Regions from separate parts of the Homo sapiens genome. Here region 2 is linked to region 1. The links come from fine-mapping of genetic effects on gene expression. A gene starts in region 1. The other region holds a variant in brackets. All regions are shown on one strand. Distances are from middle to middle. Region 1 holds the start of CREB5 (cAMP responsive element binding protein 5). Region 2 overlaps CREB5 (cAMP responsive element binding protein 5).

The links. PIP is the estimated chance that this variant, and not a neighbour inherited with it, causes the effect.
Region 2: its variant is fine-mapped to the expression of CREB5 in whole blood (INTERVAL, PIP 0.94).

Annotation. Positions count from the first base shown.
Region 1 is chr7:28,409,447-28,414,828 of GRCh38, forward strand. It overlaps CREB5 (cAMP responsive element binding protein 5), which reads left to right and starts at 3,072. Exons shown (of 11, transcript NM_182898.4): 1 at 3,072-3,471. The coding sequence starts at 3,469. RefSeq lists an enhancer at 3,069-3,158.
Region 2 is chr7:28,676,865-28,682,246 of GRCh38, forward strand. All of the region lies in intron 5 of CREB5 (cAMP responsive element binding protein 5), which reads left to right. Among named protein-coding and RNA genes, the nearest start is that of CREB5, 270 kb to the left of the region's middle. The variant C/G (reference allele first, on the strand shown) is at 3,296.

The DNA.
Region 1 (5,382 bases):
GGCCACTTCTGGGGCTTTTGCATTTAGCCACTTTTGTTGCACTTGCCGCAGGAGCCATCTCGGGAGTGTACTTGTTTGCAGGGGTTGGTTCTCGGCAGCAGCCGCGAGGTTACTTGGTCCAGTGGGCAGGTCACAGGGCAAGGAGTAGGGAAGATGCGATGCATTTTTTTCTGGAGGGTGATCTGTGTTTGTAAACATTTTGGCGGACCAGAGGGAAGTCCGGCCCCGAGTGCTGGTAGACTGTGGAATTCGGCTGTGTCCTGAGGCCACCCTAGAGACCCCGCGCCGCGTGAGTGCCGGAGCGCTCGGTGGCCGCCGCGCCGCGCGCCTGGAGGGATGCTAACGTGGAGCCGGCGCCGAGTCCGCCCGGCGTGCGTGCGTGTGTGGGAGCGCGCGAGTCCCCTGACGCGGGGACCAGTTATGAATCGGGGGTGTGTGTTTGCCTCCAGAGACCTGGCAAGGTGCGGAGCCCTCCAGAAGTGCGGTCAAGCGGCAGCGGAGACGGCGAGCCAGGAACCTCCCCCCGCGTCCCCAGCTTCCCAGCGTGGCGGCGGAACCCCCGGAGAAAGTTTGCAAACTTCCAGCGGGCGCGGCGAGGACGCCGGGTCACCTAGGGGGCGGGTGGGCGCGCGCGCAGGGGGCTCGCTCTCCCCGGTGCGGAGCTGCAGCTGCCACCTCTCCCGCCGGGCTGCCGGCTGCAGCGGGTGGGCGCGCGCCCGGGGAGGGGAGGTCGCCCTCGGAGGGCGCTTGGCTTTCGCTCCAGGCGCTCCGGGCTGGAGAGCGGCGAGGCTCCGTCCGCTCCAGTCCACTCCTCCGGCCGCCTCCTGCCTCCGCTGCTTTCTTGCTGGCATCGTTACCTCTTCCCGGCCGCTGCCCCAAATGACAGCTCCGGCTCGAGCTTTGGCGGCGCCCAGGCAATTCCCAAGACCTGGCGGCGGAGTCTCCCCCTGCGGCAGATTCTCGGCAGAATCACTTGAACTTTTCACGAAGTTCTTAGAGGGGCAAGATGCGAAGGAAGGAACCAAGGAGATGTTTTCTCTCAGCAGCTGCATCCCGCTTCTTCTTTGCCATAGATTTATTTTTAAGGGGCGTCTGGTAGATAAAGCCCTAGACCTTGTCCACACTCTCACCCCCATCCCCAACTTTCCCTGGACCGGTGCCGCCCCCACTTGATGCTTGCTCAAGGCCGGGGACTGGAGCGGGCTACTTGTATATTTCGTTGTCAGTCTGCAGAATGTGTTTGATTTTTATTTTTCCCTCCTTCTCTGACATGTGTCAAGGAATAAAGACTGGATACAGGTCCATTACGTCATTCTGCAGGCCAGTAAGTGTTTGATTAACGGCTTGAGCTCCTCAAGGGTTCAGGAGCTTAGAATGCTGACAAAGCAACTCTGCTTTGCATCCCCCTACCCTCCCCACAACACACTCGTGCAATCGCCGGCTCCCTGGGCATCTTTATTGCCCTCTCTTCCCAGCCCCTCCCTCTCCACCACTCCCCCGTCTACACCGTTATCACTCTAGCCCCGCCCCCGCCTTTTTACAGCTTTCCCTGGGGCGAGCACGGTCCCTGGAGTGTGGGTAAAAGCTTCTGGGGTCTGAGGGGACCACTGTACCTGATCAGCGCGCAATCCGCCCTTTTGTATTATTTAAGAAAGGCACCAGTAAGCCTTCTCCTCTAGGGCGAAAATGCTTAGTCCTGATAGAAAAGGCAAATCAGGAAATGTTTGCAAGCGTTATGATAATACTCTGTCCTCGTGGTGGTGACTTAGGAAAGCAATACACCCACTGCAAACAAAGTATTTCACTTTACGTAGTGCCTGCCCTTTAGCAGAAGAGGGATGCTGACAAAATCAGGTTTAGCTGAAAGGATCAAGACTAAACGTTTCATTTCCAAAGTGAGGGAATGTGAGTCGTTGAACCTAAACTTCCATACAATAAATTGCTGCGTGCGTTAGTTTCTAGCTCTTAACCTTAAGTTTCTATGTTGAAAGAGGAAGTCGAATACGTAAGTCATTGAACTGAGTCAGAACCTCCGTATCTGGCAGTTGAAATAAAGACCCTGTGTATGACTTGTTGCAAGGGATCAAAGTAAAAAGAACCCTCGGTGTGGGGGGTGGGGGGGTGGGGGCGTGAGGGAGGTGTGCAGCAGAAATTAAATTTAAAAAAGTATTAACAGAGTTTTGGATAGAGGGAGAGAGGGGATTGGAGTGGTCCCTGATTTGGAGTTGGTGAAAACTAAATAAAGAAAAGTTTATATTGCAAATATGTGGGAATTTCTTGAAGAACACATGTTTTCTTATAATTAGATCTACTTTCTTCAAAGCGAAAGCCATGCTGTAGGGTAGGCATTTGTGAAACTCCTGTCTGGGGTCTAATTGACATCCTTCCCCAAGTCTGTGGCAGGATTTAGTATTTATTCACATCTAGAGATGAAATAGTGTAACCTCCACACAATATATGTGCATCGAAAATGTTGAACTTCTTGTTTGTGATGCATAGACTTAAAGGAAAAAAAATGGCCCAGTCATGGGCACTGGAAAGTGTGATTAATGATCAGTGATTTAGTGATCAGTGATTAGTGGTTTTATTCAAACTGTTACCTCTGACCAGAAGCACACATCAGAGGATTAACAGGCTCTTTAGATAAATGCTCATTAGTGGAAGGGGAAAAGCAAAGATAATAGGCATGCACCCAGGGACAACTTTCGAAGAAAATCATTCCCGTCTTCAGAATAATAAGCTCTATTAACAGAAAGCCCTTTTAATTTAAAACTTGCTTTTATCTTGTAAATCAAAGTTAGATGTAAAAGTTTGTAGTGCCATTATAACCTAAATTTTCCCATATCCACTAGATGTGGATTATCTCAGTAGCGATATTTTTTTTTATTTAAACAAACAATTGGACCTTTAGAGCAGCTGAACCCTGACAAGTTCTTAACTCCCAGGGTTTGAAAGTGTCCCCCCTTCTAGCATGGAGATTGCAGCTTGCTAACTAGATGGCGCACTGTTATTTGGTGTTCTCTGCTGCGTAGCGCAGGAGTATAAACTGAGCATGTAGCTGCTTGCGAGGTGTTCTTCAACATTTACAACAAAGTTGATTCTGTGTAGGGTTGGAGGCTAGACAGTTCCACAAATTTTTAGTCACATTTTCCATGTCAGTTAAATCTAGGGAGTTCAAGACTACTGGAAAAATTAGTCTCATTACTAAAAGAAACTTAGAGAACGAGGGAGGTACCAGAGTCTAGGAGGTACCTCTGGGTTGCAGAAGTAATTGTAAAATACCAGACCTGTTCTTTTTACTAAAAGCTAGTTTCACTATCTTCTGGTCTGAAATACTGAGGCAAATACTCAAGACTTATTTTCTTCCTAATCTTGCTGGTGAAACAGAAGTTACTAGAAAGAAAGGAAGAAAAAACTTGATTTGGTGACTGCAGGAAGCAACACGTTGCTGCTTTTATTCTACAGATAATGGTAAGGATGATGTTTATTATGCATATTAAACAGAGAGAAAACTTTGCACTTAGTTAAATAGAACCAATGTTGTATTTTCATAGATGGAATTCAGAAATGGAGTTTAGATTTTGCACAAAATTTTAATGTTGCTTTTGTCAGTTTCCTGGGACTTATAGCATTTTATGTGGAAGGATGTGTGTGTGTGTGTGTGTGTGTGTGTGTGTGTGAATAAGACTATTATTTCCCAGGTAAAATATGTTCAGAAGCATATGAACTACAGTGGGGAAGCTATGGAGCATGTTAAGTAATGTGTCAAGCATGAATTCCCCTTTCTGTGAGGTTTCATGAATCACTTCAATAAGTATTTAAGTTTTAATAAGAAAGTTCTTGAAAAAGAAACCTAAAAATTAAAAAAAAACAATAAAACAGTTTTCCGCATTCAAACCTAGATGTGTATGCCCCTGAAGGATGATTCTATGGGTTGAATATCAACTATTACTTTAGTTCTAAAACTTAAAAGAAGAAGTATAATAAAACTCACTTGTGTCTCCCCAGAAATGTTTCTCATTTTCCTTTGCTTATAGCATTTTATATGGATCTCTTATTTTTAAATCCTTACTGATTATAGTGGTTTTTATTTTTCAACTTAACTCATAGTAAACATATTTGAAAATATCTCCAAGCCCACTATTTTTAATGTAAATTGCTGGTGCCGATAAATTGCCTGTCAATTAGCGGTCAGTCGTGACCTTATATAGTTGATACCTGAGAAGATAGTTTATTAGAACATTCCAACAAAAAATTGGAAACCATGCCCTTATTTCTAGATCTCTGTTATGTCACAGCTTTTATTTGAATAGGTGGCTAAATGAATGGTAGTTTGTCACAGAGACTTTTCCTGCATAGATTTTCAATTCTAGTAAGTTTAAGATTTTTGTTACAATGATTTGTCAGTTTCCCACACCTGCACATTCAAAACCAATCAATCATGGAGTTTCCATGATGGCAAGTTCCTAGACTCCCAATTTCTTACTATAATCTACTTTTTAGCAATGAGGTATCACAATCCTATAATATTTTCTTGTCATTGGAGTTTACTTCTTACTAAGCTAAAAATTATTTTGTCGGTGTGTAGTGTTCACTAGATCACTAAGATGTGAACTTTGTATTTGTAGTTCATTTTCTTCTGGTTATGTTGTTGGATTAAAATTGGGATTTGAGTGGACTTATTATTTTTGTCATCTTTTCTTTCTTCTCCTTCTCCTTCTCCTTCTTCTTCTTCTAAGCAATGCAGTTAGTCACAAAATTAATGTGATCCTGGCTGGTGTTTCCCATCTATATGCTTCTTTTGCTTCTTACAAATTGGATTTCTACAGCAATTTAAGGTCTTTTTTTTTTTTAGAGGCAGCTTTCTTGGATGAAGATGGAACAGTGATCTCAGTCAATTCATTATCTTGTCCACTTTGACTACCAGCTGTATTATGGGAATCAACCAATGCTTAATTAGTGTTTAAAAATTTAAATCTATGACTATTTCTCTGAATTCTATTTAAGAAAATTATACAATTGAGATAAGGTAATAAACTGGGGGGCAATTGCCTTAAATATCTAAGTGTGAGGAAGAAGCACTTTCAGATATGCTAAACAGACTTAAAGACACAGAAGACCCTTTTTGTGTTGCTATTTGTAAAATAAGTAAGCTATCTATTTTGTGGCAATGCTTTAAATACAAAGTCTGGCACTTTAAAAATGACATCATGTTTAATGTTTTCACTAAAGAATTATTACATTTCGTAATTAGGAAAAAAATGAGCAATTAGTGTTTTTTGAGTATCCATTAGTATTCCATTGTTGAGAATCACAAATCATAGATTTAACATAGGAATTTTTTTTTTTATAAAAAGAGAGAAGCCTTTTAGAAATTTCCAG
Region 2 (5,382 bases), 270 kb after region 1:
ATAGTAAACATAGAAGAGAAATGTCTTGCAAAACTAGCCACAGGTCAGGAAACCCTAATCTTATCATGGGTCCTGGAGACCATAATGCCATAGACTGTTCAGATGGGTGTTATGTTACTGTGAACACAGATGTTTTCTTTCCATCCATTGTGGGCATCCTGTTTTGGAAAAGTCACTATAGCCAATGTCTAAAGGCTTGATCACTTTAGGACAGATTACTAAATACTTTTTATCTTAAAATAGAAGAGGGGAAAGGAAATCACAGCTCCTTTAGAGCATGGACAGCAGAGACATATGAATGTATTTATATATTTTTTTCATTTACGTTATCAACTTAATTAATTTATTTATAAAATTTCCATGACCATAGGATGACCACGTAGAAGTGTGGACTATGGATCACTAGCATCAAAATCTCTGGGGAGTTTTGCTTAAAAATACATATTCTGTCATAGCACCACAGAAATAAGGCCCCACCTTGACCTATATAATCTCCAAGGTAATACCTGGAGACCTACGTTTTAATCTATTCCCCAGACATTCTCAGGCACACCACATCTGAGAACCACTGACTGATGTTTGCTGGTTGGAGTGCCAGGCCAAGGGTCAGCCTTCAAGGGATTGAGATTCATGTCTTCGTGCCTGCTTTTCTTTACCTGTAAAAGAGCATAGCTTGAAGTTTAATACAAAGTGAGCATACTTTTTCTCTTGGGGGTTTTTAACCTGGGGTCCATGGTTAAAAGGAGGAGTCAGAGTGTTCATTAGATTTTTCAAGGAGGATTATTGCCCAAGAAAAGTATATTCTAACACCAGCTTAAATGCATGCTTTCCAGTTTGGGTGGGTGCTAAAAGAAAGGAATTGGCCGAGTGTGGTGGCACATACCTGTACTGTAGTTCCAGCTACGTGGGAGGCTGACGTGGGAATATAACTTGAGCTCAGGAGTTTGAGGCTACAGAGAGCTATGATTGTGCCTGTGAACAGCCACTTCACTCCAGCCTGGGCAATGCAGTGAGACCCCATCTCTAAAAATGAAAGAAAGAGAGAAAGAGAGAGAGAAAGAAAGGGCACTGGGATTGGCCCAGACAGTGCATGAATCTCACTTTCCTTCCCATTTCTATTAATAAAGGAAGAATTTTCAACTTTGTAAGAAATAAGAAATTTAGAATCTTTTTACTCCTAAATCTATAGAACACCTTGGACATCATAATATCTACTTTTCCTCTTGTAAGAATGGAAAAGAGGCTGGGTGCAGTGGCTCACGCCTGTAATCCCAGAACTTTGGGAGGCCAAGGCGGGTGGATTACTTGAGGTCAGGAGTTCAAGACCAGCCTGGCCCACATGGTGAAACCCCGTCCCTACTAAGAATGCAAAAATTAGCTGGGTGTGGTGGTGTGCGCCTGTAGCCCCAGGCACTTGGGAGGCTGAGGTGGGAGAATTGCTTGAACCCCGGAGGTGGAGGTTGCAGTGAGCCAAGACGGCACCACTACACTCCAGCCTGGGCGACAGAGTGAGACTCTGCTCAAAAAAAATAAAAATAAAAATAAAAATAAAAGGAAAATACAAGCCTGCATTATTTATAAATCATATAGTACTCCATGTCTAGAAAAATCAAAACTTATACCAAAGCATTTAAAAGAGTCACTATGATCATTTTATTAAAGTTTAGAGATGAATTTTACCATAAAGCAGGATTAACTGCACCTTTCTCTCCAGGATTCTGGTGTAAATAGAGAAACCACAGTCATGTATGGGCCTGAGAGGGACAGTAGAATGTGGAAGTGGGTTTGGAAACCAAAATATTATGTCAGCAGTTTTCTCTTTCATTTATTCACCCTTATCAAAACCAACTTTTTAACTCAGGGGCCCAGTTAATAAAAACATAGATAATTTCATTTGGAAGACCCAAGAGCTTCATGTTTGGGGTTTAAAAAAAATTCTTCTCATCCCCTCCGGGCAAAAGTGTTGGAGGGCGAATTCTCCTTGCAGAAACCCTCTTAATAAATCAGTGCTGGTGAACTTCTCTGCTCAGTGTAAGAGAAGGTCAGTTATTAGATAGACACAGAGCTCTACAGCTGGAATCCTTGTGGAAAGAAATGAAACCACAAATACAATTCCTTAGTTTAAGCTTGCCTTTTTATTTCTAATACCTTCAAAACCTCTTCAAACTCATTTTTACTTTTGTAGTTCTTTTTTTTTTTTTTTTTCATTTAAGCATGTTTTAACAATGAAAACAGCCAGCGGAGTATATTTTCAGGGTTATCCTGCAGATACGTAAGTAATCCTTTTCTGAGGGCCTTTATGTGGAATTGCAAAGTGCTGAGGGGAGACAGAGGGAGAATATTCAGAAAGCAGATACTGCAGTGTTTTGAACTTATCATGTGCAAAGGGACAACATTTTTCCACTGATTATGAAAGTCCCCATGAACTGCTTTTCCAGATAAAAATTCTCAGCAAATGATGGTCAGCTTCTGGCAGCCCCAAGTTTTCCTCTCTGTGAAATGGGGAGACCCACCAGGGCAGCCTTGGAAACCAGTGGCTTAGGGGTTCCAGGAAAGAGGCAGGCATTTACTTTGCAAGTTTGGCTCAGAGTGTGGGCCCTGATGAGATTTCAGGGTGTAAAAGGGAGGGGACGAAGACCAGGTGAGCAGTGTAAGGCCTTCTTAGGACCCGAGGGAAGTGGCCTTCTACATTTCTTACTTTTTGATGTTATGCCACAAAAATGCTCTGTTCTTCTCTGCCTCTACTCCAACCCTCATCCCTTGGAAAATCTTCCTGGTCAGAATCATGATGTTCCTAAGATGGTTGTCTTCCCACATTGCCTCTCCTGATTCCAGGGCCGGTAACAGTGCTTGCTTCTGGACACATGGATTAACCCAGGTCATGAGGAACACCTGGATTATAAAAGGTGTTAGTGTATCAGTACAAAACAGCGAATGGTCGCATTCCCAACTTTGGTATCAGACAACTTTTAGTTCAGCTCTCAGCTCACAGTGGCTAATTGAGAAGAAGGAAAGGCTGATGAAAGCTGACACTAAGGAAGAGTCTAGTCTGTTGCAGGCATCATTCTCCATCTCCCCAAAGAGCCAGGCAGGCCCAGAGCTTCACCTGATATTTTTCTACTAACCCTACCCATGCTCATGAGTACACAGAGTAGAAAATTATCTCCAAACGAGGCTGGGACTAAGGGGCACAAATGAGCCCCCTATGGCTCAACATTTAAGGGGGCAATTATTCTCAGGGTTGGACAATTGCAGACCTGCACCTGAGAGTGAGTACCTCCTTAAATTTTGCACC[C/G]TAGGCACCTCACTTGCTTCAACCTGGACTGGTCCAGTCACCACCCTTGGTCAAAGGGGAAAGTAGGAATTTGGTTGATAATCTCCTTTAACCAAGGTTCCCCACAGAGCCTCCAGGAAAGGCCTCTTTCTTGGACATCATCAGTTGGGTTGTCCACCTCTCCCAAGCATAACTGCTCTGAGCCAGTCTTGATCAGCTACTATGCCTTGTCTTGGCTCCACTCAACACCAGAACATGAATCAGTGTAGTTAGTCTGACAACATCATTAGGCTCCAATCCCGTATAAACTTTTACCCACAAAAGTTTGGACCTCCTTGGCCGAGCACTATGGCTCACACCTGTAATCCCAGCACTTTGGAAGGCCAAGCTGGGAAGATCACTTGGGTCCAAGAGTTCAAGACCAGCCCAGGCAACATAGGGAGACTTTGTCTCTACAAAATGTAAACAAAATTAGCCAAGCATGGTGGTGCACACCTGTAGTTCCAGCTACTCAGAAGGCCGAGGTGGGGGAATCATTTGAGCCCAGGAGGTCAAGGCTACAGTGAACTGAAATCATGCCACTGCACTCCAGCCTAGGCAACAGAACAAGACACTGTATCAACCTATCTCAAAAAAAAAAAAAAAAAATTGGACCTCCTGTTCCCCCACCATTATTTGAGTTCTTCCTGTAGTGCCCACTCTAGTCATAGAGATTGGTTAGAACTGACATCACCTTTCTTTGGACATGATAAAGTCCTGGTGGCAGTGTCTCCTTTTTTAGGGCACCTCAACAACTGTGCAAGAAGTCCCAACAGGAGAATATTTAGCTGCTCTCACCTCAAGTTCCAATTTCCCTGGGTGCCTCATGTAGGAAGCTGGTGACAATAGTCTAGGATCAGCTGCTCTGACATCCACCACAGAGTGCTCATTCTGCCATCCCTGCTGTGGGGGTCCAAAAAAAGGGAGCAAGAGGAATCTGAGGCCCTCCAGGGAGAAAAGGTATAGTGTAGGGATGGAGAAGGCTGACTAGTAGATTTCCTAGGATTTTCTTATTATAGGTTTTCTAGATGCTTCAGATCTTTAGGAAGCTGCATAAAAAGTGTGAGCAATAATACAAACAGGAAAAAGAACTTTCAGGAGGCAACATATTCAGGGAAGACCGAGCAGCCTGTGTTGCCGCTAGTTCAGGCTCAGTTACATTTCTTTTTCTTTAATTAATTTATTACTATTATTATCATTATCATTATTAGAGACAGAATCTTGCTCTGTCTCCCAGCCTGGAGTGCAGTGGTGCGATCATGCCTCACTGTAGTCTTGAACTCCTGGGCTCAAGTGATCCTCCACCTCAGCCCCAGTAGCAGGACTATAGATGTATGCCACCACGCCCAGTCCCAGTCACATTTCTTAGGGACCTACTATGTATGGGCCAGGTGCTAGGTGCTAGGGAAATGAAGATGTATAGCACAGTCTCTGCCCTGGAGAAGCAAATGGCTGCTGAAGAAGACAAGCATGAAGAGATCCTCTCCATAGCTGGCTTATTGCTGGGATACAATCTGCTTCAGGACGCCAAAGGAGCACAGAGTAATGGCCACCCTTATCCCAGTCTGGTAGCCCAGCAAGGAGACCATGGAAAAGATAATGCCTGAGCTGAGGATTGTATTCATTCATTCACTCATTCATTTATTCAACAAATATTCCAGGAGTGTCAACGGTCTTTCAGACATTGGTTTAGGTTTAAGTGGTACAATGACTTGCACATTTTAAGAAGTTAGAGAAAAAACACTATAGGAAGCAGAATTGATGACAATATTTTAGGGCTAATCAAATGGCTCTTGTGACCTCTTAATATCCACCCCCAAAGGTTTCCTGATGCCTCCACCATTATAAATTCATTCCTTTGTTTGAGACACATTCAGCATTGCCACATCCGTGAATTACAAATAGGTTTTGACACAGGAAAGGCCAGTGAATTGCCTAAGGGTACTTAGTGCCAGGGTTGGGGTATAGGAGGTGCAGTAGTTACACGACAGGAGTCACCAAGGGCAGATCACTCCCTTGTCTTCTCTCTGGGAGCACCTGGAGCTGACTTCAGCAGGGCTGACAATTTA